2 linked regions of the Homo sapiens genome follow. The protein of the gene in region 2 interacts with the protein of the main gene of each other region in a pairwise test. Each region holds a gene or a part of one and is shown on either strand. Other genes may lie near its edges. The genes, in order: CTNNA3 and MPHOSPH10.

What was found.
Region 1: the proteins of MPHOSPH10 (region 2) and CTNNA3 interact in binary tests that used the Homo sapiens proteins (3 or more experiments, as listed by UniProt).

What each region holds. Positions count from the first base shown.
Region 1 is NC_000010.11:65,914,995-65,922,303, forward strand, and holds part of CTNNA3 (catenin alpha-3), read right to left. Parts: intron 5,624-7,309; coding exon 5,336-5,623; 3' UTR 1-5,335. UniProt on the Homo sapiens protein: May be involved in formation of stretch-resistant cell-cell adhesion complexes.
Region 2 is NC_000002.12:71,147,346-71,150,622, reverse strand, and holds the end of MPHOSPH10 (U3 small nucleolar ribonucleoprotein protein MPP10), read right to left. Parts: intron 2,625-3,277; coding exon 2,517-2,624; intron 1,401-2,516; coding exon 1,170-1,400; intron 758-1,169; coding exon 608-757; 3' UTR 522-607; downstream 1-521. UniProt on the Homo sapiens protein: Component of the 60-80S U3 small nucleolar ribonucleoprotein (U3 snoRNP). Required for the early cleavages during pre-18S ribosomal RNA processing. Part of the small subunit (SSU) processome, first precursor of the small eukaryotic ribosomal subunit.

The sequences.
Region 1 (7,309 bases), on a different chromosome or scaffold from region 2:
TATTTGGAGGATTGAATAAGATAATAGTTAGCATTTAACACAGAGCTGGCACATGAGGGCAAGGATCACTATTTGTTTTGTTATATGGTGTATCCTAAGAACCTAGAACAGTGCCTGGAACATCACAGTTGTTTAACAAATAGCTGTTAAATATATGAACGTATGGTAACCCAGATTGGCTCTAATATTGGGAAGAATTTCACCTACCATCAGTCAGGAGAATGGCTGAATTTCTGTTTCTCAACTTGCAAACAATATTACTAAATCATGCTCAAAATATGTGTAGTTCATCCTTTTGCCTTCGACACGACTTCACCAAACCACCAAGACAAGTGTCTCATTCTATCCTTAATACTTTCCTCAGGAGGGCTGCCTAATCTTCATAAAACCAAAAAACTCTCCCCTCATCTATGAAAGCTAAATGCTTCTGCAACTACCCCTCTCAGACCCTTCCCTACCTCTGGCACCTTCTTATTTGTTGTGCCTTTAGACTACTCCGTATCGTCTCCATTTTTCTCCAACTTACCAAACTCATATTGAATATCAATCCATGTGTTTTGTTCCCACAAACCAGTGGGGACTGCTAGATGCCATAATGCAGCCAGCAGCCATAAAGCATCTCGTCTCAGAATAAAACTTATGGTCGGCCCCACAGCCCATCTCTTGCCTGCGGATGGGATTCTGGTCAGGTTGAGTTCCATTTGGAGACAGCTCTCTCAATTAACATTACTTTCTTTTAGAGTGTCCAGAAATGGATTCTATCTTGTCTGTTAGGGGGAAAATATTCACATGCAAGAAGACTAGTGTTTTAAACTATTCTTTATTTTGCTTTAATAGAATATATGTTTTTGTTCATATGAATTGGTTAAAAATGCCAAAAAGGTATTTAAAATTTTACTTCTTCTCTTTCTCTTTGAGATGACTAAGATAGCGTTAGTAGCCTCATTCAAAACATTTTTAACTACAACTAGTTTTAATAGCATCCATGTTTTCTTTCCTAATTAAAACCAAAATGCCAAAATAAAAACTCTCAAACTGCTATTGTTATTAGTCCTGGCTTATTTGTTTAGTGGTAAAATGGAAAATACTAATGCTGAACATATCATAATGGTATGGGAAAAGAGTCATAAAGAAAAAAATGGAATTTTCATATAAATAAAAACAGTAACATCTCAGGTGGCAGAAATTTTCCTACTTTACTTAAAAAGAATTATTAAAATAATATAAAATTATATTCTTTTTAACTGAAATATTTCTGGCTTTACAAACAGAAAAAATGAATATTTGATTCCTAAATATACAATAGGCAGGCTGTCTTGGCAAAAAATAGGCCAACAAAAGAAAGTACAGATTTCATTCAAATTCAGATTCTGGTGCCTGCTTTGCCAACCTAAAGAACTACTTACAATGAAAGTGAAAGAGGCTGTTTATTCTGCAATGAGTTCACAAGAGAATGGTGGATATCACCAGGAAAAGTCTCAGATCTTATTCCACTCATACTACCACTATACAAAAATCTGTAGCCATGGGAACCACAATCTCTAGGACAGAAATGAACATTTGATACCAAAATTTAAGAATGTTTTGGGGAATAGAAAGACTAAAGGAATAATGTTGCTGGAAATTAAAATTCATAATTTTGACTAAAACTCTGTAAAATTTATTAGTCAATTTATACCTGGGATAGAGATGAGAGACAGGAGAGAGATATTTTTGGTTCACAGAAGAGGAAAGGGCATTAATTGGAGTAATTTGCTGTGATGGGCAGTCCTGATTGCACTATTTTGGTAGGAAATTGTTAGCAATTAACAGAGGATACCTAGCCCAGAGGTGGGTGAGATGAGAACACCCTCAAAATGAAGGTTCAGGAAGCCGTTGAAGTCACTTACTCTGTTGTTACACATTAGGCTTTTCAGCCACTCATTATTTAATTTGAGGAGCATTAATTATTTGGTCTGAAGGCCCAAGTTGCGCACTTAATTGTATATTCACAATTTTAGCTTGAAATTGAAACCGACTGCCTTTGAAGCTAAAGGTGTTAAGAATGCCAGACTGCAAGAATGGGTGTCTCTGTGTAGCTATGGAGGACCTTATTCCCTGTACATAAGAGATTTTTATGGGGAACAAATATGTTATATTGATCTTATGTTAAAAGATTTCAAAGGCCAGAAGGCACACTTGTGAATGTGAAGGCTATATTGTCTTTTCTAATACATTTGCAATTTGCACTCATATAATAAATAATAAACAGAAAGGAATAATGAACAAATTAGCTTAGAAATTTAGTGTTTGAGTTTTTTCTTGACTCATTCAAGAACTATCCAGAAACTGACTTAGAAACATTTTACTTCAATAATTTTAATTTGTCATAAATTAAAGGGAATGATTTCTATTTCTCACTTTTTATATTTGATAGAAATCTTCAAATTTCTCTAATTAGAAGGCCATTTAGTGGATTATTATTTCGTTTTTTTTTAAATTTTCATTCTAATTCCAGTCTAACATCTGGCAGGGATACTGGTGGGTAACCAGGGATGGAACTGCTCCTGTGGGTGGTAAACACCCCTCTCCTCCCTCTCAAGGAACGTTTTTCCCTATGTAAATTAACACAAATTGATTTCGTTAAAAAGAAAGGTGAGTTCTTATTAGCAGGATCAAGCAAATGTATTATCAGAGGAAGCACTAATCTCTGTGATGAGACATCAAAAGGTACATAGGTGGATCACCAAATTATCACTCTCATTAAGAAATTTCTGGCAATCCTCTGCAGAAGAAATACCTAAATATAAATGTGTCATGCTGATTAGTTTTTAACATAATGGGGAGATTTATTCATATCTTGCTGCTAGTTTTTCTTGCATATAAGCATTTGTTTTATCAGCAGGTTTGAATCAAACTAAATCTTGAAATGCTGCCTACTACAGGAATTCACTCAGGTGGACAGATGCCTTTTTCAGCTCTATGCATCTTGTTTTTATGTCACTATCGATTACCACAGCAGATTAACTCCTAGGATATTCATTGAGTTAAAATTTTTATTGTTTTATTTAATTATAGTTTGCTTTGAGCTAAGCTGAAAATCTGCCTGGGTTAAAGAGGAGAACTTGTTCACATCTCACTTTGGGTAAAAAGTCATTTTTATCAAAGAGATGGAGGTTATTTGGTAATTGTATAATTTCAAGTTATTTCTGTTCTTTTGGTGTCCAATACTGCATGTTCTAAACTCCAACATGTGGAAAGATGATGTTGGGTCCGGTGGACATTAGATTTTCTAAATGAGATGCTTATGATTCTTGTGAATGTGGCTTTAGGAGCTAAGATACACAACTGCTAGTTTGGTGATTTCAAAAAAATTTTCTATACAGCTGGTAGTTTGGTGATTAAAAGAAAATTCCTCTCCCCACTAAATTATAAATTTATACTTCTATCTGGAAGAAGGATATACCACAGATGTCACTCGTGCAACATCTACACTTAGAGCAGAAAATGATGGCAGCATTTCAATAAAAGAAAATCTCTATTTGCCTCAATCATCTAGATAATTCTGAAAAACAGAGTCATCTGAATTCCCTAATTCCCTTCTTCACTGCCTTTTCTTCTGGGCAGTGCATTCTGTTCAGAATAGTTATTGTAGGCCAGTCTATGGTGCAAAACAGGGAGGAGTTTATTGCCTTCACCTCCTAGGAAGTTTTACACTGAGCTCAGGCAATCCAGCTACTTGGAAGATTGAAATAATTCATTACAAGAAATTTAACATTTCCTGCATAATTAATAATGACCTATTAAATAGATCCTTCTTTTCCCATACCATTATGCTTAAGATTCCACACATATCGTACTGTCAATCTTTATGCTTTTCTATGTTTCATGCATCCTTTTACCCAAACTGGTTCTCCTAATATCAACTGGTATTGTATGTGTAAATTTTTTTCTCATCAATCTAAGGTTACATCGTTGCTGAGACGCCTCTCATCAATGGCAATGTTTTAGAAGTAAAAAGGTACAATATAATACTATTATGATAATGTAGAATAGAAAATGTTTTTTAAAGTCTGTGAATCAGAACTCTATGAATGAGAAAAAATGAAAACAAAACTTATGGCCTCCAAAGAGTTTCTGTTAAGGACATTTTTGAAAGACAGAGAGAGGCAGGTCATCAGGGGAGAGAAAAAGAGAGAGAGAATGACAGAGAGAGGTACACTAGACTCTAAGACTATTATGAAGTCCATTATGAACTCAACTAGGAATGAACACAGTGACTGGAGTTGTAAAATGACCCCAGTGACTTTTATTTAAAAGAACGTTATTAAAATCACTCCAGCTTCATTGCCATTAACTGCTTCATAGTTCAATGGTACAGTTCATGCAGTTATATTTTACTCAACGTCAAAAGATTTTTCAAACTGCCATTTTCCTTTTAATTACAATTGCAAGCTGATAAAAATGTATTTTTATGTTTGTAAAAATAGGGTCATACAGAACTTACACTTCTGTTATTATTAATATAACTCACTTTGGGATATAGTTTGTTGTCTCATTTTCCCAATGGGTGATAACTCTTCTTTCACATATGTATTCGGATAGGCCTAACACTCAAAAGTACAGAACTCTCTAACACATTGGAAACCCAAAAGGTGAGTATGTGGCATCAGAACTCATTGTAACCTTTATAATGTTAAGAAAGCATTTTATTAATAAACAAGGTTGACCTTCAAAATCCAGCAAGTAGCCTAACTATTCAAATTTGATTAGTTTATAATGGATATTAGCCTAATAAGTTGACAATGAGTACAGCTATCTAGAGATTAAAAGGTGGTTTTTTTGCTATGGCAGGAATCATACATTTCTGCCTGGTTAGGTGCCAGGTTAGATCAGATAAAGAAAGCATGGAGATTAAATGGGAAAATATTTTATAAAAGTCTTTTGTTTCTATTAAAAAACCAAGTTAGGAGCTCATGTTAGTGTTTTAATTCAAGATAAGGATGATAAGTGTACATGAAGTATTACAGATAAACAGGACTCTCTGGCCTCTCCTGTGTTTATTTGGTAACGAATAGTAGATAATCTCTATGATGGGAAACGCTGAATGACACGTGATAATTTCATTCATTCAACAAGCAAATATTCCTTAACTATTAGGTGCTGACCATACAGAAATGACAGTGATATGATCCCAAATATATATTGCTTTTGTTGATTTAGCGCCCAATATTTTATGTTATTTGTGAGTTAAACACCAAAACTTAGTGAAATTACAGAACTTCTTAAGTGTAAAATAAAGCAGTGTGGTTAGGCAGGATTTTGTCATATAGGCACTATATGTAGAATAGTGGTTTCAGTAGATTTGTCTTCCTCTAAATTCACTCATGACTTGCAATGGATGGATTTTTTTCTTTGCTGAGCCTCGTCTGACAGCTGCACACGTTTCCTCTGGCTTCTCTCTTTTAATCAAGGGTTTTTTTGCAGGAGCCTTCATTCTCCACATCACAACTGGGTGCCGGGGCCCAGCAGGACTCTGGATTCGGATGATCTTGGTTGAGGCAATGTAAGACATTTTCACTGTTTGCACTACAGCATTCATTAAATTTTTGGCTGCTTGGATCAGGGATGTGACACTGTCCAACTGTAGGGAAAAAAGAGAAAAAAGAGCTATTATTCCAGGAGGTTTTGTTAATTATTGCCAAGCGTGGGCATGGTGGCATGTGCCCGTTGCCCCAGCTACTCAGGAGGCTGAGGAGGGAGGATCACTTGAGCCCAGGAGGCAAAGGTTGCAGTGAGCCAAGATGGCGTCACTGCACCGCAGCCTGGGTGACAGTGAAACCCCATATAAAAAAATAAATAAATAATAAAAATAAAAATAACTGAGCCTGATAGTCTATTAATGTCACAATAAGCTGCTCAATATTGTCTATGCCCAAACATAAATCAATAAGTTCTGCCTCATTTTTTTGTATCTAGATGGATAAGTGATTATGTTCAATTAACTCTTATGCTAATTATGTAATGTGTTTTGCAAATAACCCTAATACGCCAATTTAAATAGAATCCTGTTAAATATTATCCTGTATAAATCTTACTTTTATTATAGTGTCTCTTCTGTGCTTTGTGGTATTATATGGTTTCAGTTTAACAACGGTACAAATTGGACCAATTCTACAAATGTTTACGGATAAAGGACTTGCTCTTAAAAACATATCAATAGCCATTTACTACAAAAAGGTGGAGTTTAGCAACAATAAAATACATTTTCTGTTTCCTCATAAAATGTTAACATTTCGTCCATGTAAGTAGTTTGTATAGAATACCTGGATCTTTTCTCAAAAACACTAAATACCTATAAATCCTTGACAACTATGTCAATTTGGAATGTCTGCTAGCAAACCCTTGCCAAAACCCTATTGTAATTAGTGATAGCTAAGAGGAATATTCAAAAAGACATGGTACATATTCCTTCTCTTGCTTTTGGAAGTTTCTCACAGAGATTGTGTCAAAACACTAGAATGCTTTCTACTCGTAGGACACTAGTCTAACTCCCTATAGTTTGGATTCAAGACTGTTACCAGACATACGCCTTACATGAGGATTCTAAGCCTACGTGAACCTCACTTCCACTGGTGTGGATCTCACTTTCTTGCACCTGGTCTGTCACCTGGGAAAGCAGCTTCCCAATCACAGGGCAGTGTGAACTGCCATGCCAACTGCTTCTTCTGAGACTCCTGCTGAGAGAAAAACCTGATGCTGCTTGGAAAGATATATGGTCTGTCCAGTAACCTTTTTGGTAAATTGGTACCAAATGTAGCCTATGATCTTGAGTCTCAAGGTGTACCTGAATTCAAAGACCCCTGTTGGATGTTGGTCCTGCACAAAAGCAATTTTTGAAAGACAAATGTCAAGAGTTTGGTTCCAAGTGTCAGAAGAGCTTAAAATAATTGCTAATATCTATTATATGCTGTAGTATGCAGTTGACATAAAGTAACTCATAGCAACCCTATGAGGTAAGTACTCTTATTATCTTCATTTTATGGATGAAGAAACAAAGGAACTGGAAGGTCTGGTGACTTGCTCAAAGTAACACAGATATTAGATAGTAGGGCTGGAACTGGAACCAAGTAAGTCTGGTTCTACCTTGCGTTTTTTCTCATTACATAAACCTGCCTCCAAGAATATCCTACTTCCAATATGTGATTATTTTTCGATATCAAATAGTTAAATAAATTATACTAACCTTAACAGAGTGTCTAAAATTTTAAAGTTGACTAGCCAGCAACTCTGCTTTTAAGAAGCTTGCTCTTATTTTTGTAATGCATGT
Region 2 (3,277 bases):
TTACATTACTGGCTGTATGGAGCTTCTGTTGCTTCTAGATTCACTTCTCCATCATACCTGTCCTCTGCAGCTGATTGTGGATAGTGCTCTACAGCCTACATTAAACCTTTGTTCAGATGACATGAGATCATTTCCCAAAGGGGAAGGAAGGCACAGGCATGAAAATGCTACTGTTTTATGAAATGACAGGGCAATGGGAGAAGGAAATCAAGAGCCCAAAGAGTGAGGACCTCTGCTGTAGACAGCTGCTTGTGAGGGGGTTGGCTGGCTCTGTCCTCTTCACAGCCTGCAGGCCAGTGCTTGCTCACCAGCCCATGTGGACAAGCTGGCCTGGCCTTCACACAGGCCTGGGCCACGGCAAGAGCACAGCAGGATCAGCTCAGGCAGTGCCTGAACAGGAAGGGCCTGGGGAGGAGCCAGGTCCTGCTTCATACCAGTGAAAACCGGAAGGGCTTTGCAAATGGTTAGGGGTTTGTCTTTTCACACTATGGAACCCTCAAATATCTGTCATCGATGCAAAGGAAGGTTCTCAAGAATTTTATTATAAAACAGAACAATGACACAATATAAGCTTACACATTAATATTTACATTATATTCAAAATATATTACAGCTTTAATTTATGAACAGAAATATCCTGTCTTTTCTTCTTTTTCTTTTCTGTTTTCTTTGCATCATTGATTTGCATTTTTACTTGATCTTGTAATTTAGAAAAGAATGCTTGAGAGGACTTTAAGGCCTTGTCTTTACCTTCATCCTGCAATTAAAAACACCACATGCTTATGCTGTAAAATGTACTTATAAGTGAAAAAAGCCAAAAATAGTACATCACCATTACAACAATGTATGCAACCATAAATATGAAAAAGGACTAGAATTACAGAAAACTGAATCAGTTAGCATAGAGGTATTCTGCACTGCTACAATGTTCTTATAATCTAAGAGAGAAAGGAGTGGAAGACAAGCTGCTGCCAGGACCCAGGTTATTGTGAGGACCCTACATGAAAAATTCTAGAACATTAAAGGTTGCGATTCCAGCCAGTCAGCATCATGCATCTCTATCCCGCAGGTGGGCTGTCAGCTGGCTCAGACATTCCAGTCACCCAGCACTTGCTATCCACTTCCCCCACAAAGGTCCCCTTGAGCAGTTTTCTTTCCCTTGTCCTTACCTTTATGAAGGAAGCTTTGCCAGTTTTGGTCAGCTGTTTTAACTTCTCCGAAGCTACTGTTTTGCTGTATTTCCCTGCTTGATCTACACTGCTCTTTTCAAGCAGTTTTCTCCGCTTCTCCTTCTCTTTTATTTTCATACGCTTTTGATATTTCTTTTTCCTTCGCTCTCGTTTCTTGTCTGTAGCTGTTTTTTCAGCAGCTGTTTTTATATCTCCAGCTTTATTTTTCTCCTATTAAAAAAATAACCACCAACATATTCATTCATCAAGTTTAACAACTAGGAAACTGGAATGGAAGAAACTGCAGGGTAGCCAGCAAGCAGGCTGTGCATCTGTGGCCAAATGCACAAAGATGCAGAGCAATCCCCACCTGCATTCCAATGAGCGTTGGTAACTCAGCTCTTTAAAACCTGAAATGCATTCTTTGACAGGCACAGACTCTTATAGTGACGGTTCAGTTCCCAAACTAATTCACAAGAAGGCAACATGGAGAGTTGGGTTCTCAACCTAACAGCACAAGAGGAGCCAGCCCTCCACAGCATTTAGATTCCAATGGGCTTCAGGGACATGCCAGAGGCAGCCTCAGCTCTGAGCTGCTAATGACAGCAACTGGACTGAGGCCAGAGGGCAGAGACCAAGGAACAGAGGAAGGGAAGGGAAACATCTCTCTAGTGAGGATCAATTCTATCTCTTTTCTCCTCAGCTGCCAGCCTATCCTGCCAGGGCTGTCACCTGCACTGAGGTGGCAGAGGCTCAGACAGAAGGGGTGAGTGTAGGTGTAGCAAATCAAGTGAGGAGGGAAAAAGAAGGCCCTGCTGCTAAGCCAGCCAGGAAGATGAGCACCTGGCAGAAACCATTATTACTGTGTAAGGCATAAGCTTCAATGTTCACATGGCAGGGATTGCTGCATTTGATATATCTAGCCTCTTCTGATAACCAAATGCTCGATTCTAGATTCAGATTCCATTACTAATTAGCATTACATGAATAAAATAAGGGGGAAATGCTGACACTAAACTATTGCTAGTATATATGCAATGCAAGCCATTTGTTTTCAACTTAACATCACTGCTAGTATTCAGATTGGATTATAATAAGATATTGATACTAGCTATTTTAAAACTGCTCTTACAGTAACTCTCAAACCTGTACCTCATAATAAAGCCAGAATATAGGAGACTGGTATTTGAATATTATAACATTACTAGTTTGCTTATACTTAGAAACTGCTGAGATACATTGGAATAAGAACTACAAGTGCAAGGCAAATGACGTCAAATAAATGGAGTCTGGCTATGATCAACTAACTTGTAACAGACATTTAAGGTTTCAACATTGGCTTCTTACCTTGATCTCCTCTGGGGCCAGGAGAGCTGCATCACTAACACTCACTGGGGCTACTTCCTCCATGGTTATGGCTGGCAGATTTGACACAACTTTAATCTCTGGTACAGGCTAGAAAAGAGATAATACATTCAATGGGAAGCCAGAAGGGACTCTAACACAAAATGTGTGAACTGTGAACCTATTAACTTAAAGTATAATATATAAAATACTTTATGGAGATTATCTTTTTTTCACTTGCTTGAAAGTCAGCAAACCTAATGGAGACTATTTAAAATGTTAGATATGGTGACAGCCAAAGTCCTAAGTGGACTGGCATGACGGCAGTGCTGAGGGGCAGCACTGCTTCAGGATCCCAGAGACCTGGGTATTTTAGGGTTTTCTGTCTCAAAACCATTCCAACAGCATGTATTTCTTTTTCTTTTTTTTTTTCTTTTGAGACAGAGCCTTGCTCTGTTGCCCAGGCTGGAGTGCACTGGCGCTATCTCGGCTCACTGCAAGCTCCCTCTTAAGGGTTCATGCCATTCTCCTGCCTCAGCCTCCCGAGTAGCTGGGACTACAGGCGCCTGCCATCACACCTGGCTAATTTTTTGTATTTTTAGTAGAGATGGGGTTTCACCGTGTTAGCCAGGATGATCTGGATCTCCTGACCTCGTGATCTGCCCGCCTCGGCCTCCCAAAGTGCTGGGATTACAGGCATGAGCCACCACACCCGGCGTTTTCTACATTTTTACATAACATTTCTGCCATCTTCAAACATCAGT